Linked DNA regions of Homo sapiens: all the other regions are linked to region 1. The links come from fine-mapping of genetic effects on gene expression. A gene starts in region 1. Each other region holds a variant in brackets. All regions are shown on one strand. Distances are from middle to middle.

Region 1 (4,078 bases):
TCCATTCTCCTGCCTCAGCCTCCCCAGTAGCTGGGACTACAGGAGCCCGCCACCACGCCCAGCTAATTTTTTTGTAATTTTAGTAGAGACGGGGTTTCACCGTGTTAGCCAGGATGGTCTCGATTTCCTGACCTCGTGATCCGGCCGCCTCGGCCTCCCAAAGTGCTGGGATTATAGGTGTGAGCCACCACGCCCAGCCGATATTGTCTGCTTTTTAACTGAAGAATGTGCTTTACAGTTCAAAATTAACTGAAAATCTTCATATTTAAAGCCATAAAATGAAAAGAGAAGCCAAAAGCTGGAAGGAGATATTTGCAAAACACATACCACTACTAAAGGAGTGGTATCAGAATATATAAAAACAATTCCTGGCCGGGCACGGTGGCTCACACCTGTAATCCCAGCACTTTGGGAGGCCGAGGTGGGTGTATCACCTGAGGTCAAGAGTTCGGGACCAGCCTGGCCAACATGGCGAAACCCTGTCTCTACTACAAATACAAAAAAATCAGCCAGGCGTGGTGGCAGGCGCCTGTAATTCCAGCTACTCGGGAGGCTGAGGTAGGATAATTGCTAGAACCCAGGAGGTGGAGGTTGCAGTGAACCATGATTTCTCCACTGCACTCCAGCCTGGGCGACAGAGTGAGACTTCGTCTAAAAAAAAAAAAAAAAAAAAAAATTCCTACAAATCATTAAGAAAAGGGCAGAGAGTCCAACAGAAAAATGAACAAAAGACAGGCCCCTCACAAAAGAAGATCTCCAAGTGATGAATCCATATAAGAAAATGTGCTCAAACTTATTGGTCATGAGGGAAATACAAATCAAACCACCAAGTTGGACTTCTCCATCGGAATGTGGACACCACAGGAGCAGAGATTTTTGTTCATTCATGCACATATGATTGATCTGAAAAAGCCACCCATCATGGACCCCACAGAATGTCAACACTGACCCCACACACACTCCCATTCTTGTCCTCATAGACCCTCATCCCTCACCCCAGATCCCCCTATCCACTCACCCCACGGATCAGCATCCCTCACCCTACAGACCACCCATCACTCACCCCAGACTCCCTTCACCCATCCCATAGAAGCCCCATCACTCACCCTTACAGACATCATCAAACACCGCACAGATCCCCCATCACCCCACAAACTCCCATTTGCATAACCCACATACTGTTACCCCTGGTCCCACAGGCTCCCCTATCACTGTTCTCCACGTCACTCAATCCCCTCCTCAGGCCCTCCACTTGTCTCCATCCGTCACTGATCACATAGACCCGCAGCACTCAGCCAGGCCCCTCACCCCGGCTCTGCTCTCAAGCCGGGCTTGGCTCCCCGCCTGCCCAAATGCGTTCAACATCCCCCGAAAGGCCATTTCCCTTCCAGTCTTCCCGGAGAGATGTCAGGGTGACGAGGGAGCTTATCTTTCGGTGGCTCCGAAACAGCCACGAAGCCGAGCTCTACCAGTAACAAAAATGGCGTCATTCCGCCAGCGCCAGGACCTCTGTCGCTGGCCGTGGTCTCGCACTGCTTCTGGAGGCTCCCATTCCAGCCAGAGGAGAGGTGCGTTTGGGGGCCCGGGGGAGTCCTCGTGATATCTCCGAGTTTGGGTATTCGGAATTGATCCTACGAAAGCAGTGTGAGGCTTGGAAGGGCCGCGACTTGTCCGGGTGAGTGGGCGTTCCCGGCCACCAGAAGAGGCACGGCCTGAGCAAAGGCGTGGCGACATGGCAGGGTGGGAAACGGGGAAAGTGGGAAGGCTGGACAGAGCACCCCCCGGGAGATTCCTCCGCAGAAGCGAATTCCTAAAACGTCTGGAGAAAGGGAAGAGACCTTTGACATCATGCAGCCTTTCAGGGGGCTCACACATACCCGCCCACTTCTCCCCACCTGGCCTCGGCGCCCTGCCGCCTTCCTATTGTTCCTGCTTGGCGTCAGGACCCGCCCCCATCTGTCACTCACTGCCCACCGGTCCTCCATTGGCTCCTTTGAACACGGAAGGGCCCACCTTCACCTGTCATTTACAGCCTGGACTTCTGCCTGCCCTAGTTCAAGTAGGCTTATATGGCCTTTTGCAGCCCGTATCAAAACTAAAAGAGTTCATAGAGTCAGAGGTTCGAGGTAAAACCTAAGGGACATTGGTTTTAGACGACTTAACAAAGGGCTGGATTGGAAGTCAGCCCGGAACAGGATTGCAGAGTTAACAAAGGTTCATGTTCGATACAAAACGGGAACTCTGATGGTTACAATAGTTAAGAAAGTCCTAGGATTCAAGACCTCTATCAGGGTGTATGGATGGAGAAAACATTAACAAATATCCTGCTTGAAGATCAAATCAGAGGGGCACTGGTGGTGCAATAGTAACCCAATTCCAAAGTTATTTCAGAGAGGCCTTAAATGGAAGGTTAACTTAGACCCAAATCTGAGCCAAGACCAGAGACCCATTAAAGTCACGTGATGTGGTTAACAGAGCCCCGGAATTCACAGCCTATACCAAAGGGGTAATGATGGTGGAAGAATTAATCAAGGTCTGACTTCAAAGTCAAACCAAATGGCATTCATGATAAAAATGTTAACTGAGGGCTGGGCACAGTGGCTAACACTTGCAATCTCAGAACTTTGGGAGGCCAAGGCGGGAGGATCACTTGAGGCCAGGAGTTAGAGACCAGCCTGGCCAACATGGCAAAACCCTATCTCTACTAAAAATACAAAATTTAGCCAGATGTGGTGGCACATGCCTGTAGTCTCAGCTGCTTGGGAGGCTGAGGCATGAGAATCGCTTGAACCTGGGAGGTGGAGGTTGCAGTGGGCCAAGACTGTGACACTGCACTCCAACCTGGGGGAGAGACAAAACTCTGTCTCAAAAAATAAAAATAAGAAAAAAATGTTAACTGAGGGCCGGGCACAGTGGCTGACACCTGTAATCCCAGGACTTTGGGAGGCTGAGGCGGGAGGATCATGTGAGCCCAGGAGATCAAGACCAGTCTGGGCAACATAGTGAGACTCCATCTCTATAAAAATAAATGTTAACTGAGGATTGGGGTTGGTGGATACAGGAGAAGGGGCACAAGTAGCTAAAAAGTTAGTACAGCCTTGATTTTCTGTACATACCAAAGGATCATAGATGGAGAGGACTCAACTGAGGCCTGCAGTCAGTGTAAAGATCTGAGGGATGCAGAGCGTAGTGGCTCACTCCTATAATCCCAGCATTTTGGGAGGTGGAGGCAGGCAGATCACTTGAAGCCAGGACTCAGCATAGCCAACTTGGCGAAAACCTGTCTCTACTAAAAATACGAAAATTACCCAGACGTGGTGGTGCATGCCTGTAATTCCAGCTGCTTGGGTGGCCGAAGCATGAGAATCACTAGAACCTGGGAGGTGGAGGTTGCAGTGAGCAAGAACTGAGGGGCAGTAATGGGGAAAGAGTTAACAGACATGCAAAAAGATTCACATGTAAATTGCCCTGGTGATGGAAAAGTGAACAGAAACTCAAGCTTAACACATAGACCCAGGATTATTAATTTTCCACCCTCAAAGCCCTGAATTCTCTCTCTAGATCCAAACCCATTAATAGTGGAATGGATAACAGATTCCCCAGTTCAAGGTAAAATTAAGGGTTGATTTAGGTTGGAAGAGTTAATAGAAGCCCAGGTTGGAGAGCACAGATAAGAGACTTTGATGGTGGAATTGCTAACAACAGCTGGGGTTTGAGGTGAGGTCAGAGGGATAGGGATGGTGGAAGAGTTAAGAAGGACATGGTTTGAGTATAGACCAGACGGGCCATCAATGATGGAATATTTCAAAGATGCCTGTATTCATTTCCTGTTGTTGCTATAGCAAATTATCACAGACTTACTTGCTCAAAACAACACAAATTTATTATCTTACAGTCCTACATGTCAGAAATATGATATGGGTTTCACTGGGCACTCCCTACAGAGGCTTAGGAGAAACTCTGTTTATTTGCTTTACCTAGCTTCTGCTAGAAGTCACCTGTATTCCTTGACTCATGGTCCCTTCCTCCATCTTCAAAGCTGACAGTGTAGCATCTTCACATTGCTCTCTGACGGTAA
Region 2 (4,078 bases), 53 kb before region 1:
CGCCGCCCCGTCTGAGATGTGAAGAGTGCCTCTGCCCCGCCGCGACCCCGTCTGGGAACTGAGGAGTGTCTCTGCCCCGCCGCCACCCCGTCTGGGAGGTGAGGAGCGTCTCTGACTGGCCGCCCAGTATGAGAAGTGAGGAGCTCCTCCGCCCGGCAGCCGCCCCATCTGGGAAGTGAGGAGCATCTCCGCCTGGCAGCCGCCCCGTCCGGGAGGGAGGTGGGGGGGTCAGCCCCTGCCCAGCCAGCCGCCCTGTCCAGGAGGTGGGGGGGTCAGCCCCTGCGCAGCCAGCAGCCCTGTCAGGGAGGTGGGGGGCAGCCCCCACCAGGCCGCCGCCCCGTCTGGGAGGTGGGGGGCGCCTCTGCCCGGCCACCCCATCTGGGAAGTGAGGAGCCCCTCTGCCCAGCTGCCACCCCGTCTGGGAGGTGTACCCAACAGCTCATTGAGAACGGGCCATGATGACGATGGCGGTTTTGTTGAATAGAAAAGGGGGAAATGTGGGGAAAAGAAAGAGAAATCAGATTGTTACTGTGTCTGTGTAGAAAGAAGTAGACATAGGAGACTCCATTTTGTTCTGTACTAAGAAAAATTCTTCTGCCTTGGGATGCTGTTAATCTATAACCTTACCCCCAGCCCCGTGCTCTCTGAAACATGTGCTATGTCCAGAAACGGTTAAATGGATTAAGGGCGGTGCAAGATGTGCTTTGTTAAACAGATGCTTGAAGGCAGCATACTCGTTAAGAGTCATCACCACTCCCTAATCTCAAGTACCCAGGGACACAAACACTGCGGAAGGCGGCAGGGCCCTCTGCCTAGGAAAACCAGAGACCTTTGTTCACATGTTTATCTGCTGACCTTCCCTCCACTATTGTCCTATGACCCTGCCAAATCCCCCTCTCCGAGAAACACCCAAGAATGATCAATAAATACTAAAAAAATTTAAAAAAAAATGGCAAGGATTAAAACCATGACAAGAAGATTAGAAAGGGTATTTTCATTCATTATTAGTGGGGGGTGTCAACTTGTACTAACTTTTCAAAAGGCAATTTGGCAATGTCTATGAAAGTTCAAAACGTGCCCACCTTTTGAACCAGACACTCTAGAAATGCTCACCACTGTGTACAAAGATAGATGACAAGATAAAAAAAAAACCAGGTACTGCTGAGGTTGTAGAGAAAAGGGAATGCTTATACACTGTTGGTGGGAATGTAAATTAACTCAACCATTGTGAAAAGCAGCGTGGCAATTCCTCAAAGAGCTAAAGAGAGAATTACCATTCAACCCAGCAATCTCATTACTGGGTATACAGCCAAAGGAATATAAATTGTTCTACCACAAAGACGCATGCATGCATATGTTCACTGCAGCACTATTCACAATAGCAAAGACATGGAATCAGCCTAAATGCCCATCAATGGTAGTCTGGACAAAGAAAATGTGGTACATATACACCATGGAATACTATGCAGCCATCAAAAAGAATGAGATCAGGCCAGGTGCAGTGGCTCATGCCTGTAATCCCAGCACTTTGAGAGGCCAAGGTGGGAGGATCATGTGAGCCCAGGAGTTCAAGACCAGCCTGGACAACATAACAAGACCTCATCTGTAGACCTCGTCTCTACAAAAAAATAATAATAACAATTTTAAAAAGAACAAGATCATGTCCTTTGCAGCAACATGAATAGAGCTGGAGGCCAGCAACATGAATAGAGCTGGAGGCCATTATCCTTAACACACTAACACAGGAACAGAAAACTAAATACTGCATGTTCTCACTTATAAGTGGGAGCTAAATGATGAGAACTAATGGACACAAAGAGAGGAACAACAGACACTGGGGCCTACTTGAAGGTGGAGGGTGGGAGGAGGGAGACGATGAAAAAAAAAAATAACCATTGGGTTTAGTACCTTGGTGATGAAATAATCTGTGCAACAAACCCCCGTGACATGAGTTTACCTATATAACCAACTTGCACATGTACCCCTGAACCTAAAATAAAAGTTAAAGAAAAAGACGACAAGAGAGATCACTGCCACACTGTAGCAGAAATTACACAGAAGTCCTTCAATATGGGGCTGATTAATAAATCGTAGTACATGCATACAAGAAAAAAAAGCATCTCTTAAAAATATCTCTATGTCCTGATACTGAAATACCTTCCATCAACAAGTGTTCATTAAGTAGGGGCTATTCCAGCTATGCCAGTGAGCAGCTGTGCAAGCCCATGCAATCTGCTTATCCACTCTGGTACTCAGCTTCCTTAGCTGTAAGAGGTAGATAAAAATGGTACCTACTTCCTAAGGTCATTGTGAGAATTAAAAGTGATCATGCATATATAATGCTTAGTATGGTGTCAGGTGCAGTGTGAGCTCACTACATGTCGGCTCTTGTTGTGTCACTTTTGTTATCATTATCATTTGTATTATCATTATCATTACCACTATGACCATTATTAATACTATTCTGGGCAAATGGAATGGCAAAACAGTTTTACATAATGAGCAGATTTTAGCAAAA[G/C]GAAGACATTTACATACGTATATATTTATATGTGTATGTAAATATAAAGAGAAAGAACAAGGGGGAGAGAGAGGTGTATAGGTGGAAATTAACCAAATTCATCAGAAATTGGTTATTTGGAATGAGTGGTGATATGAGATTATAAGTGAATTCCCCCTTTCAGATTGTATATTCCTCAAGAGTTTGGATTTTTGGTGTGCCACTTCTAAATCACTTCTGTAGGAAGAGAAAAAAATGACAAAATAATATAGACTTTCTTAAAAAGGGCAGAAGGGAAAGTACTGAACATGCTTAGGGACATCATGAATTCTGAGCCTAAAAAGGAAAAGGGCAGACCTTTGGGTTGCTCAGGCTGTTCTGAAACCCCAGATGTGGAAAAACTACATATAGATCAGAAAAGAATTTGAAGGGCATGAGGTTTACTGATTCTTCCTGATGATCAAGGTCCATATATTGAGCCAGAACATAAGAGCTATTTGTGCAGACATGGCTTTGATTTCCTGAAGAGTCACATATTTTTAGTTCTGCTTTAGCAGGACACCTTTGGTTGACATGCAGACATATTTTAAGTCACAGCAGAGCAATCCTATCTCTGTATTTATCACAAGATTGCTGATAAGGGACTTGGCTGACGCATCAGAGAACTGTCTTATCAAAGAAATCTTTGCTTCTGAGGAAGTGGCTTACTTTCTCTGTATGGGTGAGATAAATAAAGCAAATGAGCTTTTTTCCCCCTCTATGTTGTGGCTTCTAGGAAGCTCAGAAAAATAACTGTAGCTCAACATAATTATGTAGAATCCTATGATCTACATATAGACATTTCAACCTGGCCTTGGTTTTGCTCTACTTCCCTATTCCATTTTATGTGTTTATATGTATCCATTTTATGGTATTAATAATAGTATAATAATAATATTAAACTCATATATAAGACTTACGTATGTGCTAGGCATTGTTGTAAACACTTATATTGACTCAATTGATCTACACAACAACCATACAAGGCAGGTATTATTATTATTATCATTAACATCATCATCCCTATTTTACAGTTAGAGAAACTAAGGCACAAAGAGGTTAAATGACGACTCTGTCCGCAGACCACCAGCCCTCTCACTTCCGTTCGATGTAAACTCTCTGCCCCGCCTCATACCCTGCTCTGATGTTAAGATCCGAATGCTTATTCAGGCAAGGTCCCCTTGTGTTTCCAAAATCAGTCACAACTTCCTCTGACAGCCACCTTTTTCCGACCTTTATCCTGCATTAATTAGGTACTGCCAGTCACTATACTTGCTCATGCGCAGTACCGTTCCCAAAGCCGTCGGTGCTAGCAGCCAAAGTTGTTCTGTGGTTTTCTTTAATTTAATGATTAAATTTTTTTAATTGTACATATTTGTAGGGTGCAGAGTGGTATTTCAATACATGCATACAATGTGTAATGATCAAATCAGGGTAATTAGCATGTGCATCACCTCAAATATTTATCATTTCTTTGCGTTGGGAATATTCAAAATCCTCTCTTCTAGGTATTTGAAAATGTACAATAAATTATTGCTAACT
Region 3 (4,078 bases), 500 kb before region 1:
AGTCAGCCTAAGGCAGAGCAGCTGGGTGGGGCAGGGAGGACGTCTGAGCTGGGATGGGAGTTGGAATGGACCAGAAAAGGCAGATGGGTGATGATTCGCGGGGAGACTGAGATGGGCCAGAAGGATGTGAAGGAGGAGGAAAAGTATGAGGATGGAGTGGGAAGAGCCAGATGATAGGAGGACTAGGACTCGGGCCAGGAGTTTTAGGGATGGGTTGGTGGCGGGGGGGCGAGTTTGGCAGGGAAGGCTCTGGGCTGGGCAGGAAGTTGCAGAGGGTGGGTCAGCCAGGTGCCTGGGAGGCCCTGGAGGAGGAAACTTTCCCAGGGCCTTTGAGGAGGAATTCGAACTGAGTGCAGTTTCTCTGGGATTCTGGCACCAAATTCCTGGGGTGGGGGTGCGGAGCCTCTGGTGGGCCGGGAGGAGCGAAAGCTTGGGGGAAGGGCTTGGCTCAGGCTGGAGAGAGTTCGTGGGACCCCTGCATAGGACCTGGGTCTGAGGAGCAAGGGAGCTAGGGCTGCTCTACTGGGGCAGCGGCCCGCTTTGTGAGCAGCAAGGCGAAGGCTGCTGTAGGGGTCCCCTTACTTGAGCTGGGGGTGCGGAGGTCCCCCTGCAGCGGCGGTGGCGGGTGGCGGCACGTCCTGGCTGGGTTTCTGGGCCAGCTGTGGTTTGGGACGTCCAGCGGGGCCCGGGCCGCTGGGCCGAGGCTGCTGCGTGGTGGGTGGCCCAGTGCGGGGCACGGGACCCGCCTGGCTGGCCTGGCGTGTGGGGCCGGCTGGGCCTGGGGGTTTCTGGGGCGGGCCCTGGCGCTGCTGCCCGCCCGGTGGGGCCCCAGAGGCCTTTGGCGGAGCCGGGCCAGAGACGGATGTCTGACGGGTAGCCTGTGGGGGGCCCGCCTGGCGCTGGGGAGACGGAGAGGCGGGCGGGCGGGCTGCTGGAGGCGCCCCGGGGCCTCCCGCCACTGGCCGGGATTGGCGGCCTTGACCCTGGGTCGGCGGCGCGGCCTGGGACGCGGGCTGCTGGGGCGCTGAGGTGGGACTTGGAAGGCGCTGGGGCAGGGGGCTGCCAGCTGGGGGTCCAAGGCCTGAAAGGTGCTGCTGGCCCTGCGGGGGCGGGCGCTGCTGCAATGGGGGTCCCTGGCGCTGGGGGCCTGGACCCGGCTGTGGAGGGCCGCCTGGGGGACAGAGGGAGAGAAAGAGCACACGTGAGAGTGAGCGGGTAAGAGATGGCGGGCTGAGGGAGGGGACTGCGACCGCCAGCCTCTCGCTTACCCTGTGGTGGGGGTCGCTGCTGAGCCGGGGGCCCTGCGGGCTGCTGGGAGGTCTGGCGGCCCAAGGGCAGGGCCCCTGGGGACGGAGTCTGCGGCAGAGGAATGGAGCAGGAGAGGTTAAAAATAGTTACCAGCCAGTGGAGCATCAGCCAGTGATGACACAGGTTCCCTGTGCGCTGGGTGTTGCCCCACTTGTGGCTGAGCTGAGGGTACTCTGGGTTGTGGGGTGGGGGACCTGTTCCCAGGGGCGGGGCAGGGAGGTGCTCAGGGAAGTCAGGGCAGCAGCTGCTTATCAATGTTTTAAACAATTGGCAATCGCAGCCACATGTGTGCAAAGGTGATGCTGTGAGCCTACAGATTATCAGCTTCATGGCACAGCATGACCCAGGGCCGGCCTCCCCACACTAGCTCAAGCCACTAGCTCAGCGCCAGGGGCCTGACCTGGCCATGGGAGCCCCTGCCAGGGGAGGCATCCCGCTGTCGCTGCCGGGGCAGGGCCTGAGCCATCTTGTTGACCACGAGCTCTACGATGAGCTGTTTGTCTTCATCCTGGTGGTCACCAATGAGCGGCATGGAGGAACCCACCACCTGGGGGAAGGAAAGGATCCGTGAGGGGAGAGGCAGGCCTCGCACCTGAGGCGGCAGTAACACCGTGCTTTCAGTTGGCCAAGGGCATGGCCGCCGCTGAGCCCCAGTGTCTGAGGCACTGATTGTGCACGGTGAGGAAGGCTTGTCTGTTCCAAGGTACCTTACAGCTTAGAAGGTGCTTCAGAGCAGGGCTCAGCAAATTAGGGCCCATGGGCCCAACCTGGCCGACCACCTGGTTCTGTATGACCCAGAGCTAAGGATGGGTCTTTAAATTTTGTAACAGTTGAAAAAAATCGAAAGATTTTATAACATGCGAAAATGGCATGAAATTTAAATTTCAATGTCCATAAACAAAGTTTTATTGGAACACAGCCACACTT[A/AT]TTTTTTTAACATATCGTCTATGGCTGCTTTTGCAGAGTTGAGTAGTTACGGCAGAGGCTACGTGGCCTACAAAGCCTAAAATATGTACCGTCTGCTCCTTTACAGAAAATGTTTGCCGATCCCTGCTTCACGGTTTTCTAGGTGCTTTGTCCTTTCCAAAATGCTTTGCTGTCGGTCCAGTTCGCAGAATACTTTAAAGGTTACTAAGTGCCTCGCCATTCACCAAGATGTCTCGATTCGCAGAGCACTAAACAATCTAATAAGGGTTTTGCTAGTCACCAGGGACGTGCAAGTTCAGTCTAGTGTTCTGCCATTGCAAGGGATGGCCCCTTCGAAAGTTCGTCAGGCACCTTACAGTGTACTAAGCACATTGCTGTTGGCTGAGGACCTCTGTGCCATGGAGTGCTTCAGTTTGCACTGCTGCTGCCTGGCATCTGTTCCTCCCTCTACCCCACCTACCCCTGGGTGCTCATACCTCAATGATGTGATCCCTTCCGTCCTTGCCATGTAGCGCTTCCACTGCGCAGATGTCCAGTCCCCCAAAAATCTCTGAGCACGTGTCCACCCACAGCTTGTATCTGCCAAGACAAAGGGTGGGGAAGCCTGTCAGTCTCTCACCTGAGCTGTCGTGCTCCCACCCCCGCTTCCCCTCACACCCTGAGTTCGGGCTGCCCACCTGTCAGACATGGCAATTTGCTCCAGCATCGCAGAGCCAGTATTGGTCTTCCAGTTCCCTGACACTGACGTCCTCCTGGGGGACAAGGGGACAGAAGCTCAGGGGTGCCTCAGCTGCATGAGGCAAGGCAGGGGACCCCTTCCAGGGCTTTGGTCTCTCCACTCACATGTAGGCCTTGTAGTTCTGCCCAATCTTCTGGACACGCACGTCATATTTGGCATCGATGAAGGGCTCGGCAGTGGCATACGTCTTGGTCAGTGCCACGACACTTGCGATGTCCTGGAAGTCATGCTGGTTGTCAACCTTGACCTGTGGAAGTGCGGGCAAGGATCAGGGCCTGGTCAGGATAGGGCAGCTGTGGGGAGTGGGGGTGCCTGGGGGAGCATGTATACATGACACACAGGTGAGGCGAGTACACAAAAATTAGGTGGACATGCCAAGGCGCTCAAGCAGGCACGATCATGGGTCTCCTGTTTTGTATGTGAGCACACAGGCACAAAGTTGGGTGTGTAGAACACTGAGCATACCAAAATGTATTGGATTGTCTACTTTAAATGGGTGAGTTGTAGGGTGTGTGAACTATCTCTCACTAAAGCTGTGAAAAAACTGTGTATGTACAATATACTAATATAGGCATCCAGACACAAAATCAATTGTACACACAACATGCTAAGATACAGAAACTCGGACACAAATTACAAGTCTACTTTCTACGTACACAGAGACAAAATCAGATGGATGTAAAGCACACAGGACCCCAAGACTTTGGAACATAAAAGATCACACCACATCATGTGTGTTCGGCACAGGCATGCATGTACACACAGACACGATGCTGGAGACAAGCAAAATAACAGGACACACAAAATTGGCTGAATGCAGGAGGAAAAAGGGGTCGATGAGGTCAGCTGAATGTGAGAAAACAAAAATCTATTAGGTTGGTGCAAAAGTAATTGTGGTTTTTACCATAAGAACTGGCAAAACCCGCAATTACTTTTGCACCAACCTGATAGATAACGACACCCCAGGAGACGCGATCACACAGAATGACTGGTGTGCATTGCACAAATACACATCTACCTATGCACAGCCCAGCCAGAGACTCACCTTGCCCATCCCAGAGTGTGCGTGCCCCATCTTCACAACCACGGGGTACGTTGTACTGC
Region 4 (4,078 bases), 53 kb after region 1:
CCACCACATCTAGCTAGTTTTTGTATTTTCTGTAGACACAGGATCCCACTATGTTGCCCAGGCTGGTCTCTATCTACTCGGTCCAGGCAATTCTCCTGCCTCAGCCTCCCAAAGTGCTAGGTGCGGTGGCTCATGCCTGTAATCCCAGCACATTGGGATTCCAAGGCGGGCAGATCACTTGAGGTCATGAGTTTGAGATCAGCCTGGCTAACATGGTGAAACCCCCTCTCTACTGAAAATACAAAAATTAGCTTGGTGCGGTGGTGAGCACCTGTAATCCCAGCTAGTTGGGAGGCTGAGGCAGGAGAATCACTTGATTCTGGGAGATGTAGGTTGTAGTGAGCTGGGATCACGCCACTGCACTTCATCCTGGGCAACAGAGCAAGAATCCATCGCAATAAAATCGTAAAAATAAAATAAAATAGAATAAAACAAAACAATTGCTAGTTATTTTTGTATTATGACTTTTGAGCTCCATTCTTGTTGCCTAATATTTGTTAAGTCAGTTCTCCCAACAGGATAATGTTGGCCTAGTGCTTCAAGATGATTGCTAATACAGCTGGGACTAACACGATGAAACTTGATACTGAACTCCAGACAAACCTGCCTGATTTTCTTTTTCCTTCTGGCTCTTTATGGCTCAAATGTGGCCCATGTCCCTGATATAGACCCCTTACCTTTCTCTTGACATAGACCGGCACAGGTCCATCCTGGTATGGAGTGACAATGAAACCTCACTTTCAGATGGCTGATCAGTGAGGTTTTCAAAGAAAGATCTTCATCAAAAGAGGGAATGTGAAAGCTGATTTGTTACAAAGAGCATCTCCTGGGCGGGCGCAGTGACCCACGCTGTAATATCAGCACTTTGGGAGGCCGAGGCAGGCAGATCACTTGAGATCAGGAGTTTGAGACCAGCCTGGCCAACAGGGTGAAACCCCCGTCTCTACTAAAAATACAAAAATTAGCCAGCCGTGGTGGCAGGCTCCTGTGAATTCCAGTTACTGCAGGGGCTGAGGCAGGAGAATCCCTTGAACCTGGGAGACGGAGGGTGCAGTGAGCCGAGATCACGCCACTGCACTCCAGCCTGGGCGACAGAGTAAGTCTCCGTCTCAAAAAACAAACAGCATCTTTCGCCTACAGTGATTTGAGCTGTGGTCTTGTCTCCTTGGGTTTCTCTATCAGTCTGACCCCATCTACTCTATCTCCCAGGAATGCCTCAATATTTCTGGTGGACCACTGACATGTTTTCCTATTTTCCTCTACTGTTAAGAATTGACCCTTGAAAATATTTTCTCCCAGTTCGATAGAATGTTGAGTGGGGCACGGCATCTATCTGCCATCTTGCTCCAATCATCTGGTTTTAGATATTTTATGTACTTTTGTCACTATATAAGTGTATTTTTTCTCAATTTGGTTTTCTAAATGATTGATATTGGTATGTAGAAAACCTATCTATTATTGTATATAATATTTTGTTACCTGTCTGTGTGCAGCTTCCCCTGCATTTTGGCACAAGACTCAATTTGTTTTGTTCTCCAAAAGAAAAGTGACAGGCTGGGTGTGGTGGCTCACACCTATAATCCCACCACTTTGGGAGTCGGAGGCAGGTGGATCTCGTGAGGTCAGGAGTTTGAGACCAGTCTGACCAAGATGGTGAACCACCTTCTCTACTAAAAATACAAATAAAAAATTAGCCGGGCATTGGTGGTGTGCACCTGTATTCCCAGCTACTAGGGCAGCTGAGGCGGGAGGATCACTTGAACTCGGGAGGCCGAGATTGCAGTGAGCCAAGGTGGCACCACTGCATTCCAGCCTGGTGGACAGAAACTCTATCTCTAAATAAAAAGAAAAAGAAAAAAGAAAATTCACTTCACAGGCAGTAGATAGTTATAAAAGGATAATTTATGGGCGATTTCATAGGGGAGACTGATGGAAAAAAAGGAAGTATACATTCTACAGAGCTGAGCAGTTCACTGCAAAAATCACCAGAACTGCCTTTTTCTCCAAAAATATTACCCATAAGCTATTCTACTACTGGTTTTTCTAGTCCTTCCCTCTATTCCAAATCCTCAAAATTGTCCTTTTCCTTATTGGGATAATTTTCCTCTGCCCAGATCTGGGTCCTCCACCACACTTAACACTGTCTGCAAGTGTGTGAATTCCCATTGGCTTTGGGCCATACAGGACACCTCTAGACAGACTATACTGAGAAGCCATGCTTGGAACGGTGCATGGGGAGAGGACAGGAGAGGGAATTTACATACCTGGCTCTCACTCCTGGTTCTTTT[A/T]CTTATTGGTCAAAATTTACCCCACAGGCACGAACTCCCCCACACTTCTAGATTGCATCATCTGCCCCTTTGGCAGCTGTCTGGGAAGCCAGATCCCACACTTTGAAGTGTAGTGTTTCATACAATCCAAAAGTGGTAGCAGAGGCCAGGCGTGGTGTCACATGCCTGTAACCCCAGCACTTTGAGAGGCCAAGGCGGGCGGATCATGAGGTCAGAAGTTCAAGACTAGCCTGGCGAGCATGGTGAAACCCCGTCTCCACTAAAAATACAAAAATTAGCCGGGCATGGTCGCACGTGCCTATAATCTCAGCTACTTGGGAGGCTGAGGCAGGAGAATCACTTGACCCTGGGAGGCAGAGCTTGCAGCGAGCTGAGATCGCACCATGACACTTCAGCCTGGGTGACAGAGCAAGACTCCATCTCAAAAACAAAATAAAGCAAAACAAACAAAAAATCAAAAAGGTGGTAGCAGAAACCAGAAAGTCCAGGTATGTAGCTAATTGGCCTAGTTGTACAGCAGCAGCCAAGGGTGAAAACTAAATACTCCCAGGCAAGCCCTAAGTTCACCAAGTAATTGGAGTACCCATCTGTGTTAGTTAATTGCCTTTATCTGAAGGAAAAATAAAACTCATATTTCTGTGACAAGCAGGTGCTTACAGCTTGGAGCAAGGCATCTAGGCTAAACTCCCCTGGTGACAGGGAGACAGTGACATCATCTTCCTCGATGTTCACATTTCAAAAAGACGGCTCCAAGGCCCTAAAGAAAGACATTTATAGGGACCGGGCATGGTGGCTCACGTTTGTAATCCCAACACTTTTGGAGGCTGAGGCTGGAGGATCACTTGAGGCCTGGAGTTCAAGTTCAAGACATTCCTGGGTTATAGGGTGGCCAGAGGCTTACATATCAAAGGAGGAATTTACAAGTACAAATTTTTTCGAGGAAATGCTCTAAGGAAAGTGAAGTCTCTTCTTGCCCTTTTGGCAACAGGAAAATCTCAATTTTATGTTTAGTTACCCTTACAATTTCCCCCTTTTGTTATTCTTTTATAGCAACACTGCAATATTCTAATTATCTCCACTGCTGTTTCTTTCTCTGCCTAGTTTACAGCCACCTAGATATCCAACAAGTCCATAGTAAGATGCAAAGCAAAGCAATTGTCAAGATAATAATAGAATGATTTTTTTTTCATGACGGAGTTTTCATCTCATTGCCCAGGCTAGAGTGCAATGGCACGATGTCAGCTCACTGCAACCTCTGTCTCCTGAGTTCAAGTGATTCTCCTGCCTCAGCCTCCCAAGTAGCTGGGATTACAGGCATGAGCCACCAGGCCCAGCTAATTTTGTATTTTTTTGTGGAGATGGGGTTTCACCATGTTAGCCAGGCTGGACTTCAACTCCTCACCCCAGGTGATCTGCCCACCTAGGCTTCCCAAAGTGTTAGGATTACAGATGTGAGCCACCATGCCCGGTCTAGAATGAATTTTTAAATTCAGTATAATAATCACCTTGTCAGGGGGTGGGGCGATCTTTAAACACATCATATTGGTTAATTGTGTCAAAGTCAAAATAAATTATAGAGACAAATCCCTAAATCAAATGCTCTATTTGGGAATCACAAAATTACAATTCAGGGCATACACACAGACTAGGGTGGTCTTCAGTATGTGCAATGAACAAACAGAAGTTGGAAGTTTTATTAGAAAGAAAAATGTTACATATTGTTTAGAAATGAGGCTCATTGGCACTGGAGAAGCTGGTTCATTTGCACAATCAGCTTTCACATTCCCTCT
Region 5 (4,000 bases), 450 kb after region 1:
GCTCCTCAGACTGTGCTGCTTCGCCTGGGCAGCCAGTGCTCCTCGGTCCTTTCCCATAGTCCCTCTGCTTGAGTCACACTGTTAGGTCTTTTATTTGGGTGAAGTGTGCAAAATATGTTTATTTATTTTACTTATAAAATAACTTTTAGGCTGGGCATGCTGGCTCACGCCTACAATCCCAGCACTTTGGGAGGCCAAGGTGGGCAGATCACTTGAGGTCAGGAGTTCAAGACCAGCCTGGCCAACCTGGCGAAACCCCGTCTCTACCAAAAATATAAAAAATTAGCCAGGCGTGATAGCATGCACCTGTAATTCCAGCTACTCGGGAGGCTAAGGCAGGAGAATCACTTGAACCCAGGAGGTGGAGGTCACAGTGAGCCCATGCCACTGCACTCCAGCCTGGGCAACAGAGCGAGACTCTCTCAAAAAAAAAAATCACTTTATAGAGATGGAGTGGAAAATCCAGGTTTTACTTGTGTTAATTATTTCACTTCATTATTGTTTAGGTAGAATTTGCAAGACTTCTTAATTTTTTTTTTTTTTTTGAGACAAGGTCTGTCACCCAGGCTAAAGTGCAGTGGTGTGATCACGGCCCACTGCAGCCTCACATTCCTGGGCTCAAGCCATCCTTCTGCCTCAACCTCCTGAGTAGCTGGGACTACAGGTGCATGACACTAAGCCCGGCTAATGTTTTTTTAATTTTTTTTGTAGAGACAGGGTCTCCCTATGTTGCCCAGGCTGGTCTTGAACTCCTAGGCTCAAGCAATCCCCTTGCCTCAACCTCCTAAAGTGCTAGGATAACAGGCATGAGCACCCTGTTTTATTTAATTTAAATATATATATATATTTTTAGACGGAGTCTTGCTCTTGTTGCCCAGGCTGGAGTGCAATGGTGCGATCTCAGCTCACTGCAACCTCCGCCTCCTGGGTTCAAGCAATTCTCCTGCCTCAGCCTCCTGAGTAGCTGGGATTACAGGCACGCACCACCATGCTGGGCTAATTTTTGTACTTTTAGTAGAGATGGGATTTCGTCATGTTGGCCAGGCTGGTCTTGAACTCCAGGCCTCAGGTGATCCACCCGCCTCAGCCTCCCAAAGTGTTGGGATTACAGGCGTGAGCCACCACGCCCGGCCAAAAAAATATATATTTTATTTTACTTAGGTTGAGTGTACAAACCCTGGATTCTGCACTTTAAAATTTTTCGTTAAAATGTATGCACTATTTTTGTTCATGTTGAGTATGCAAATACCAGATTTTACTCCTTTTTAAATTAAGAACAATTTAAAAATAACATTTATTCATATGGCTCTTGCAGAATCCAGGTTTTTGCTTCTCTTTTAGTTAGGTTTCAGTCAAAAACAAAACTTTGTGTTTTTTGATATTAAAAAGTTTTTAATTCAGGTTAAGTGTGCAAAATCTGGGATTTGCTTTTCTTTTTTTTTTTTGAGACACGGTCTCACTCTGTTACCCAGGCTAAAGTGCAGTGGCACAATCATAGCTCACTGCAGCCTCAAACTCCCAGGCTCGAGCAGTCCACCCACCTCAGCCTCCCAAGTAGCTGGGACTAGAGATGCATGCCACCACACCTGGCTTTTTGCTTCTTTTTAAATAAAGTTTTTGTTTTGTTTTCATTAAAATATTTTAAAATAGTGAATGCCTATCATGTGCTTCAAAAACCAAACAGTATTCAAGATATTTAGAGAAAAGATTTGCTCCCACCCTCTGCCCCCTACCCTCTTACAGGTTACATGGTGAGACGGGGTTTCACCATGTTAGCCAGGCTGGTCTCAAACTCCTGACCTCAGGTAATCCACTCACCTCAGCCTCCCAAAGTGCTGAGATTGCAGGCGTGAGCCACCGCACTGAGCCCACTTTTATCCTTTTATTAAAATATCTTTCCAAAATTTAAGCATATCAAACAAATATAAAAATATATTTTAATTCTACCCCCTTGCCAGTTTTTACCCTAAAGATAACACATGAATGATACTGTTCTGCAATTTTTGAAAATCTTCCACATCAGGATATAGTGTCCTCATTCATTTTTTCCACTATGAGGAAGTGACACAGTTTATTTTTTCTCTTATTTGTGGACATCAGGTAATTTCTAGTCCTTTCCTATTGCAAGTGATGTTGCAGCAGGA[A/C]CTCTGTACCCAAGTGGATCCACACAGGTGTGGACAGATCTGTAGGATCTGTTGATAGTCTCAATGGAGTAGTACTTTTGTGCTCTCCCACCAGCAATGCCTGAATGTGCCTGCTGCCCCACCAGTACAGAGTGCCTCTCAGACTTCCTGGATATGTTTGCCACTTCAATAAAGAGGAAGATGGCCGGGCGGGGTGGCTCATGCCTGTAATCCCAGCACTTTGGGACGCCCAGGCAGGCAGATCACTTGAGGTCAGGAGTTCGAGACCAGCCTGACCAACATGGTGAAACCCCATCTCTACTAAAAGTACAAAAATTAGCTGGGCATGGTGGTGCAGCATCTGTAATCCCAGCTACTCAGGAGGCTGAGGCAGGAGAATCTCTTGAACCTGGGAGGTAGAGGTTGCAGTGAGCTCAGATCGTGCCACTGCACTCAAGCCTGGGTGACAGAATGAGAGCCTGTCTCAAAAAGAAAATAAATAAAATGAGGAAGATTATTAATGAGGCTGAGCATCTTTTCATATGTTTAAGAGCCATTTGTTTTTCCTTTACTGGAATGACCTATTCACCTTCTCTGGCAATTTTTCTTTCCAAAAAATTAATTTTTAGGAGCTCTTTATATATTAGGGAGATAACAGGTCAGAGAATGGGATCACTTTGTTTTTAAAATGATTTTTAAAGAAGAAGACAAAAACTATATCTGGTCACCTTTCATATGTACCTAGGCCCTTCTGCGGGGCCTCGCCTAGAGCAGTCACAGAAATGTCCTTGGGCAAAGGATGGGTTTTCCTAAGAACTTCTTTGTCCTTGCTAAGTGGGACCATCACCTCTTTCTCTCCCACAGGGCTACGGCATGGCATACACTGTCCACAAGTGGTCAGAGCTCAGCTGGGCCAGTCACTGGGTCACTTTTGGATGCTGGATCTTCTACCGTCTCATAGGCTGAGGCACATCTGTGGACCCTCATAACCCTCTTAAGACCCCTCTCAGGGTGCCACTGATGGGGGATGAGGGAAGGCCCTCTCTCTACTCCTTGACCCCCTCCATCCTTGACCCCCAACACCTCAACACACACACACACACACACACACAAAATCACACCATTTTCATGCCTGTCAATCCCCACCCCACCACAAGGCAGGAAGGGGGTGGTGCCTGCTGGGGCCTAGAGGGGGATGCTTGGGGAAACAGAGAAGGGGAGATCCAGGGCCTCCCCGCCTTCCTTCTTCCTTTTTATATACAATTTGTTATTGTCAAATAAAAGTAGGAAATATTCAATAGGCTTCTTCTTCACTGCTCAGAGGGGAATAGGAATGAGTGAGGAAGGGAGCACAGCATGGATAAAGGTTTGGAAGCTGGAAACCATGAAGAGAGAGCAGACTGTGATTGGTTCATGGTTAGTTTATGATTGATTAGATGATGAGCCTGAAGATGGCAGGATCCTGGTCCTGCTTGGTTTGATCAGGGCAGGGACAGATTGCATAGTTGGATGTGGGGGAGGCCTGATTGGCTGGAAAACTGAAGGATCCCCATTCTGATTGGTTGCTCTGAGTGGGACACAGAGGAGAGAAAGCAAGAGAGATGAAGGGTTGGTGCCTATTTATCCTTAGGACTGAGGGTTGTGGGTTCTAATTGGATGGGAGGTCTGGGATGGGTCTGGATTCTGATTGATTGCTCCATCTGGGGGCCCACTGGTGGTTAGGCGTTTGATTGGCTTTTTAGAACTGGCATATGGAGATTGAGGGTCTTCATGCCAATTGGTCAGTAGGACTGAGAGGCCTGGGTTCTAACTAGTTCTTCTGACTTGAGGTCGGGAGAAGAGAGAATGACCGCTGCTATTAGGACTGAGGAGTTCTG
Region 6 (4,078 bases), 45 kb before region 1:
AATTTTTTTTGTATTTTTAGTAGAGACGGGGTTTCACCATGTTGGCCAGGATGGTCTTGAACTCCTGACCTCAGGTTATCCACCCGCCTCGGCCTCACAAAGTGCTGGGATTACAGGCGTGAGCCACCACACCTGGCCTTCTTTACTTTCTTTCAGCAATGTTTTGTACAGGTCTTGCATCTGCTTGGCTAACTTTATTTCTCAGTATTTTATTCTTTTTATCCTATCGTAAACAAAATTGTTGTCTTAATTTCCATTTTGGCTTTTTCATTGATAGTGTATAGAAAAGCAATTGATAGTTGTATGTTGATCTTGCATCCTGCCATTTAGCAGGATTTGTTTATGAGTTCTAACAGTTGTTTTTTTTGCAGATTATTTAGGATTTTCTATATATATATAAATCATACCATCTGGGAATAGAAATAGTTTTACTTTCTTTCTAATTTGGGCATCTCTTATTTCTTTCTTTTGCCTGAAAATTTATCTGGCTAGAACTTTGAGTACAATCTTTAATAGAAGTGACAAAAGTAGGCATCCTTATCTTGTTACTATAACTCTCTACCCTTAAACTTTTATGCCAGAATTTCTAAGGACCAGATAGAATGAATTATGCCTTTACTGTTATATAAGTAAGCCAAAGATGGCCTCTATGTTTGACCCCCAGGTTGTTTATTTCTTCACTGCAGGCTGAGACCCCTTAACTCAAAAGTTTGCTGGCACCAAACAAATTTTTACATACCCAAATATTTCATAAATAGCCCAAACACATAGATTTTTAGCCACTGAGAGTCTTCCTGCTTTACATACCCCAGAAAACCTGGTACTACATCTTTCATCTTTGGGGAATAGATAAGTTAGGCCCCAGGCCATAAAATACCCAAAGCTGCTGCTGCTGCCCTTCAGAGTTCTCTGACCCAGAGAATTTTCTCTTTGCTGCTGAATGACATCACCTAGACAAATAAGCCCCCGTCTTGATGCCCCAGCACTTCCCTTGTCGTTCTGCCCTTCCGAATAGTTGACCAGTGGCCATAACCTCTGTACAGGCTCGGGCTGTGAGGGACTTCATGCAAACCTGTCACAGAATCACCCCATAACCCTTATTGTGCTACGCCACCTTGTGGTCATTTATTTCCTTCATCAGCGCCCTAAATCGCTCAAACTCCCTGTAAGTGACAAAGAGGAAAAGGGAAGGATTTCTGGTAATCATGAAATAGATAGGAGACAGTAGGACAAATAATTGGTAAAAGAATCCTGGATGGTCTCAAGCGGTGGAACTCTAAACTTGGAATGCCATTGCATCAGTTTGGCATGGGACTGCTTTGTGCTGTGTCACATACTCTACATTTGTGGGTTTTCTCTGTGCCTCACTAGCCTGGCCAAGCAGTAACACCAGTATTTGAATGAATCCACTTCATTAGAACTGACTTTTGGGATCAGGTGTGGAACTGCCTGGGGAAGGAGGTCACCCTGCCCGCCTGGAGCCCCACTAGGCAGGGAAATGCTGGGGCACGCACAGGGCGCTATAAGGCCTGTGGGTCTGAACACAAAAGGTTGGGGGAGTACACATCTCTGGACTGAGGGTAGGCTATCCTGACCCCATGACTGGCTAGAGTGGTAGGAGCCCCGTGAGTTGGCCCTGTGATTTTGGGTACCCTGAGACGCATATGACACGTGAACATGGCTATAAAGCAGCGATGTCGGGCTGACGTGGATCCCCTAAGCACAGCTGGGGGAGGCGCTTTTGTAAACAGCTAGCATGCCTCTGTTCTTGTCGCATTTGAATTTGCTATTACAGATGACATCATTTCTGTTCCTTTCCGGAGCAATATCAAGACCCCAAATTTGTTGAGGTGGGGCAAAACTGTTACTTCACGTGACTAAAGACGTTTATATTGCTGTCCCAACCAGGACTCCAAAGGAGGTGGCTGTCCTCTTGAATCCAAACCAGGGGACCCATGTTGGGCTTGCGCGCTTCTCGCCAGGACACGGCCCAGAGGGTAGGTCTCTCATTCATAGTAGCCACATTAAGCCTGGCTGTCTACTCTAGTCTATGATCGGGGCATAGAATAATAATAACCCTTATTGTGCTACGCCACCTTGTGGTCATATAATCTTCTTTCATCAGAGGAGACCAGAAGGCGTAGAAGACCCCGGAGAAGAGGACTGGCGCCCTCTAGAGGATGACGCG[A/G]CACAATACCACCATGAGAGAGTGAGGAACTTGACCTTCTCCTTTGCCAGTCACCAACAGCAAAGTCAAAAAAACAGAAGAGACAACAGGGGAGGGTCAAGAAGGAGAGGCCATTTCTCATTTGGAGGAGGAGACACCCTCTGTCTCACCCGGAGCCCCTGCCTGTCCGTAAGGACCTAGCCAGGGAACCAAATGAAAAAGCTACCGATGGCCGGGCGTGCTGGCTCACGCCTGTAATCCCAGCACTTTGGGAGGCCAAGGCGGGCGGATCATGAGGTCAGGAGATCGAGACCATCCTGGCTAACACGATGAAACCCCGTCTCTACTAAAAATACAAAAAGAAATTAGCCGGGCGTGGTGGCAGGCGCCTATAGTCCCAGCTACCGGGGAGGCTGAGGCAGGAGAATGGCGTGAACCCGGGAGGCGGAGCTTGCAGTGAGCCGAGATCACGCCACTGCACTCCAGCCTGGGCGACAGAGCGAGACTCCGTCAAAAGGAAAGAAAAGAAAAGAAAAAAGCTACAGACAATGTATCGAACAGAGCACAGCAAGCTCCACCTGACAGGGGCTGAAGTGAAGCACTTGGCTGCCCCAGGACGGTATGGAAAAGTGGCTTCCCTACTAAAGGATTCTGCACAGTTAGTACAGAAGCTGAGAGTGACTCCCAGGAGGCTTTGCATTGCAGTCCATGTACACCTGGTCAGTATGGATTTTGCATTTTTGTGAATTTTGGTGGCTTGGAAAGCTGCCCACCCTACACGAGGCCTCACAACCCCCTGGGCAGAATGGCGGTGGAAAACGTTAGCTGAGGCCAAAGATGTCCTCCATCAGCTCTGCACATTCCAGTGGGATTATCTGGTGACAGATGGCAGGGCATGAGGACTCTATAGTCTGAGGAGGCTGAATGGAGTGCTGAGCCCACACAGTAGTTTCTCAGGGAGCACCTGACAAGTACAAGTCCTGATTTCTGTCAGCGATGGCTAAGGCTAAACAATCCACCAGGCCATGGCTGCCCTGGATGGAATAGAATCTCATGGAGGACAAACTCACAGCCCAGTGTTGCCTGCAGTTATGAAAACAATGCCCCACCTGGCCTAAATCACAAGGAACATCACCGGCAAGGCCGCCCCCTCATAGTGCAAATAAACCACCACCAGCCAGGCCCCCAGTTGAGCGGGAACCCTGAGATGCACGGAAGAGGTCATCTATTAGTCAGGGTTCTGCAGAGCAACAGAACCAATAGGAGGCGATATGTCTACGTCTATGTGGAGATATGTGGGATTTATCGTAAGGAATTGGCCCACATGGGCCCAGAGGCCCACAGATCCCAAGACCTGTAGTTGGCAAGCTGGGAACCCAGGAGAGTGGGTGGTGCAGGTCCAGTGTGACGGCCAGCAGACTTGAGGCCAATGAAGAGCTGACGTTTTAGCGCATGCTCCAAGGCGGGAATAAACTGATGTCCCAGCCCCAGCACTCAGGCAGGAGGAGTCCTCTCTGACTCACGGAGGGTCAGCAGTCCTGTTTGCCTCAGGCTTTCAACTGGCTGGGTGGGGCCCCCCACATCTAGGAGGGAGGTCAGCTTCACTTAGTCTTCCAGAGAAAGGTTAAGCTCACCCAGAAACACACTCACAGCCACACCCAGGACAGTTTGATCCATTGTTTAGGCACCCTGTAGCCCAGGCAAGTTGACACGTAAAATTCACCATCCCGGGTTGTATGGAGCCTCAAGGGACAAGAGGATCCCAAATTGGATGTGCTCTGATAAATCAGTGCAACAACACAATACGAGCCAGGGTGAGGGGACAGCCATGGCAGGCCTCTGCTTCCAAGGCAGCCTCACCTTCAACACCTGCCTTGATCTCTGCCAGTGACAGGGACCCACCCCACACAG
Region 7 (4,078 bases), 110 kb before region 1:
TTGTTGGGATTCTCTGAGTCATCTATGTTTGTAAATGTTTCCTGTGTATTCCTCATTGGATTTAAATATGTGTATGTATACCCATATCCATGTATCAGACATAGATCAAGCTTAATAATTGTGCTATTCAAATGAGTCATTATTTTTTGTCTGTTTAAGAGATGTGTGATAATTTCTGTCTCTGTAATTGAGGGTTCATCACTGACTTTAAATCTATGTCGTTAGGTACATAAACATGCCTTACCACCATGTCTTCTGATGAATGTTACCTTTTATTATTATTAAAATATCCTTCTTTGTCCCACTTAATGTTTTTGTTTTCAAATTTTATGTCCATTTTTCATTTTGTTAGCATTTTCCTAATTTTTTTTGAGACGGGGTCTTGCCCTGTCACCCAGGCTGGAGTGCAGTGACACAATATCAGCTCATTGCAGCCTCAACTTCCTGGGCTCAAGCAATTCTCCCACCTCAGCCTTCCGAGTAGCTGGGACTACAGGCATGCAACATCATGCCTGGCTGACTTTTATATTTTTTTGTAGAGATGGGGTTTCGCCATGTTGCCCAGGCTGGTCTCGAACATCTGAGCTCAAGCAATCTACCTGCCTCAGCCTCCTAAAGTGCTGAGATTATAGGTGTGGCCACCATGCCTGGCCTAACTTTTTATTTTTAAAGTTATTTTTCAAAATTATGAAATATTTCAAACAAACCAAAAGGTATAGAGAAAAGTACTTGGGTAGTGTGCAGATCACATGTTTGTGTCCCCTTTCCCTGCCCAATTCATATGTCAAAACCCTTAATGTTAACCTTAATGGGATGGTATTAGGAAGAGGGGCCTTTGGGAAGTAGTTAGGATTAGATGAGGTCACAAGAGTGGAATCCCCATGATGAGGTTAGTGTCTGATATGATTTAGATGTCTATCCCCTTCAAATCTCATGTTGAAATGTGATCCTTGATGTTGGAGGTAGGGCCTAGTGGGAGGTGTTTGCATCATGGGGGCACATCCCTCATGAGTGGCTTGGTACCATGCTTGTGGTAATGATTGAGTTCTCACTCTATGAGTTCATGTGAGATCTGGCTGTTTAAAAGAGGCTGGCATACAGAGTGATATAATAGACTTTAGAGACTCAGAAGGGGGAGAGGGAAGAGGGGCCAAGGATAAAAAGAAACTACACAGTAGGTACAATATTTGCTACTTGGGTGATGGGTGCACTAAAATCTCAGAATTCACCACTATAAAATTCATTCATGTAACAAAAAAACACTTGTACCCCAAAAGCTATTGAAATAAAAAAATAAAAGAGTCTGGCACCTCTCCCCTCCCTCTCTCTTGCTCCCTCTCTCACCATGTGACATGCTGGCTCCCCTTTACCTTCCATTATGATTGTAAGCTTCCCCAGGACCTCACCAGAAGCAGATGCTGGCACTATTCTTCATGTACAGCCTGCAGAACCACAAACCAAATAAACCTCTTTTCTTCATAAATTACTTGAGTCTCAGGTATTCCTTTACAGCAATGCAAAAATGGACTAACAGAAAATTGGTATTGAGAAGTGGGGCATTGCTATAAAGATACTTGAAAATGTGGAAGCAGCTTTGGAACCGGGTAACGGGCAGAGGTTGGAAGAGTTTGGAGGGCTCAGAAGAAGACAGGAAGATGAGGGAAAACTTGGAACTTTAACGTTAGAGACTGGTTAAATGAATGTGACCAAAATGCTGATAGATTGTGTTGAGTCTTGACAACGAAAAAAAATGCTGATAGAAATGGACAGTGAAGGCCAGGCTGACGAAGTCTCAGATGGAAATTAGGAATTTATTGGGAGCTGGAGCAAAGGTCACCCTTGTTATGCTGTAGCAAAGAATTTGGCTGCATTGTGTCCATGCCCTAGGGATTTATGGAAGGTTGAACTTAAGACTGATGACCTAGAGTATCCAGCAGAAGAAATTTTTTTTTTGAATGTGATTCTTTTATTGTCAAGAGAGTAAAGAAGACATATTACTGGTTTGTGGATAAGAACAAATAATATGCTGCCTAGCCGCCCAACTGTCTGGGAAGTGAGGGGCGCCTCTGCCCAGCTGCCTACCGTCTGGCAAATGAGGAGCGCCTCTGTCCAGCCGCCCAACTCTCTGGGAAGTGAGGAGTGCCTCTGCCCAGCCACCCAACTGGGAAGTGAGGAGCGCCTCTGCCTGGCCACCCCGTCTGGGAAGTGAGGTGCCCCTCTGGCTGGCTGCCCACCATCTGGCAAGTGAGGAGCGCCTCTGCCC[G/A]GCTGCCGCCCTGTCTGGGAAGTGAGGAGCGCCTCTGCCCAGCCTGCCGCCCCGTCTGGGAAGTGTGGAGCGCCTCTGCCCAGCTGCCCACTGTCTGGGAAGTGAGGCGCGCCTCTGCCCGGCTGCTGTGCAACCTTCCAAGTGTGAAGTGACAGCCTTGTGTGTGATCTTTTCTGTCTTCCCCAAGTTTGCATTTTCAACATTAAAGTTTACTTTTCAGTTAAAAGTAAAAAAAAAAAAAAAAAAAAAGAGCAAATAATATGATAATATGATCGAAGGAGATGACAAATATTTTCTCAGTCATATGTGATCTTTAGTTAGTTTTTTTTTTTTTTTTGAGACAGAGTCTCACTCTGTTGCCCAGGCTGGAGTGCAGTGACATGATCTTGGCTCACTGCAACCTCCACCTCCTCCAGAAGAAATTTCTAAGCAGCAAAGCATTCAAAAAGAGGCATATGGATAGATATGGGAGCAAAGAAATGACTTAAAAGTTGGAACTCATATCTAAAAAGGAAGCAGAGCATAAAAACTTGGAAAATTTGGCTGGGCGTGGTGGCTCATGCCTGTAATCCCAGCACTTTGGGAGGCCGAGATGGGCAGATCACCTGAGGTCAGGAGTTCGAGACCAGCCTGGCTAACATGGCAAAACCCCGTCTCTACTAAAAATACCAAAATTAGCCGGGTGTGGTGGTGGGTGCCTGTAATCCCAGCTATTTGGGAGGCTGAGGCAGGAGAATCACTTGAACCTGGGAGGCAGAGGTTGCAGTGAGCCAAGATCGCACCATTGCACTCCAGCCTGGGTGACAGAGCAAGACTCCATCTCAAAAACAAACAAACAGACAACAACAAAAATAAACTTGGAAAATTTGCAGCCTGGCCATGTGGTAGAGAAGGAAAGAGCATTTTCAAGAGAGGAATACAAGTGGGCTTTGGAGCACCCGCTTGCTAGAGAGATTAGCATGACTGAAAAGGAGCCAAGTGCCAATAGCCAAGACAATGGGGGAAAGGCCTCAAAAGCATTTCAGAAACCTTCGGGACAGTCCCTCTCATCACAAGCCCAGAGGGCTAGGAGGAAAGAATTGTTTCATGGGCCAGGGCCGGGGCACCAATGTCCTGCACCACCTCAGGAGGCTGTTCCTCACATCCCCGCTGCTCCAGCTCTAGCCTTGGCTCAAAGGGCCCCAGACACTGCTCTTGCCACCATTCTAGAAGGCACAAGCCATAGCCTTGGTGGCTTCTCCATAGTGTTAAGCCTGTAGGTGCACAAAATCCAAGAATGGAGGAGGCTTGGCAGCTTCCAGCCAGATCTCAGAGGATGTATTGGAAAGCCTGTATGGCCAGGCAGAAGCCTTCCACAAAGGTAGAACTCCCACAGAGAGACTCTACTAGCGCAGTGCCAAGGGGAAATATGGGGCTGTAGCCCCCATGCAGAGTCCCCACTGGGACACTGCCTAGTGGAGCTGTAGGAATGGGGCCACTGCCCCCCAGACCCAAGAGTGGTAGAACTACCAGTGGCTTGCACCCTGAGCCTGAAGGCACTTAACTCCAACCTGTGAGCGCAGCCAAGCCACAGATGCAGAGTTGCCCAAGGCCTTGGGAGCCCACCTGTTGTACAAATGTGCCCTGGATGCAGGACATGAAGTCAAAGAAGGTTATTTTGGAGCTTTAAGGTTTAATGTCTGTCTTGCTGGGTTTCGGACTTGTGTGGAGCCTGTTGCCCCCTTTTTTTGGCTGCTTTCTCTCTTTTGAAATGGAAATGTTTACCCAATGCCTGTACCACCATTGTATCTTGGAAGTAAATAACTTGTTTTTGAT

Direction of the effects. Positions count from the first base shown, and alleles are read on the strand shown. Sizes are in standard deviations (SD) of each study's normalised expression. Not every link is listed here.
For the expression in thyroid of the gene that starts at base 1,682 in region 1, allele G in region 2 goes with a lower level than allele C (moderate effect, 0.72 SD a copy in GTEx).

Evidence for each region.
Region 2: its variant is fine-mapped to the expression of ZNF630 in thyroid (GTEx, PIP above 0.99).
Region 3: its variant is fine-mapped to the expression of ZNF630 in whole blood (TOPMed, PIP 0.97).
Region 4: its variant is fine-mapped to the expression of ZNF630 in tibial artery (GTEx, PIP 0.98).
Region 5: its variant is fine-mapped to the expression of ZNF630 in sigmoid colon (GTEx, PIP above 0.99).
Region 6: its variant is fine-mapped to the expression of ZNF630 in whole blood (TOPMed, PIP 0.92).
Region 7: its variant is fine-mapped to the expression of ZNF630 in whole blood (TOPMed, PIP above 0.99). The same link has a PIP of 0.9 or more in blood mononuclear cells.

The regions. Positions count from the first base shown.
Region 1 is chrX:48,069,959-48,074,036 of GRCh38, forward strand. ZNF630 (zinc finger protein 630) reads right to left here and starts at 1,682. Exons shown (of 5, transcript NM_001282201.2): 1 at 1,309-1,682. RefSeq lists an enhancer at 1,653-1,912 and a silencer at 1,824-2,020.
Region 2 is chrX:48,016,912-48,020,989 of GRCh38, forward strand. No RefSeq gene overlaps it. Among named protein-coding and RNA genes, the nearest start is that of SPACA5, 12 kb to the left of the region's middle. The variant G/C (reference allele first, on the strand shown) is at 2,519.
Region 3 is chrX:47,573,420-47,577,497 of GRCh38, forward strand. It overlaps SYN1 (synapsin I), which reads right to left. Exons shown (of 13, transcript NM_006950.3): 6 at 4,020-4,078; 7 at 3,079-3,221; 8 at 2,913-2,987; 9 at 2,712-2,814; 10 at 1,709-1,855; 11 at 1,269-1,356; 12 at 583-1,171. Among named protein-coding and RNA genes, the nearest start is that of TIMP1, 7.0 kb to the right of the region's middle. RefSeq lists enhancers at 1,381-1,888, 1,889-2,395, 2,488-2,988, 4,031-4,078. The variant A/AT (reference allele first, on the strand shown) is at 2,236.
Region 4 is chrX:48,123,096-48,127,173 of GRCh38, forward strand. No RefSeq gene overlaps it. Among named protein-coding and RNA genes, the nearest start is that of SPACA5B, 5.5 kb to the right of the region's middle. The variant A/T (reference allele first, on the strand shown) is at 2,289.
Region 5 is chrX:48,517,388-48,521,387 of GRCh38, forward strand. It overlaps PORCN (porcupine O-acyltransferase), which reads left to right. Exons shown (of 15, transcript NM_203475.3): 15 at 2,988-3,421. The coding sequence ends at 3,089. Among named protein-coding and RNA genes, the nearest start is that of EBP, 2.4 kb to the right of the region's middle. RefSeq lists a silencer at 3,262-3,321. The variant A/C (reference allele first, on the strand shown) is at 2,145.
Region 6 is chrX:48,024,709-48,028,786 of GRCh38, forward strand. No RefSeq gene overlaps it. Among named protein-coding and RNA genes, the nearest start is that of SPACA5, 20 kb to the left of the region's middle. The variant A/G (reference allele first, on the strand shown) is at 2,189.
Region 7 is chrX:47,963,442-47,967,519 of GRCh38, forward strand. No RefSeq gene overlaps it. Among named protein-coding and RNA genes, the nearest start is that of ZNF182, 39 kb to the right of the region's middle. The variant G/A (reference allele first, on the strand shown) is at 2,264.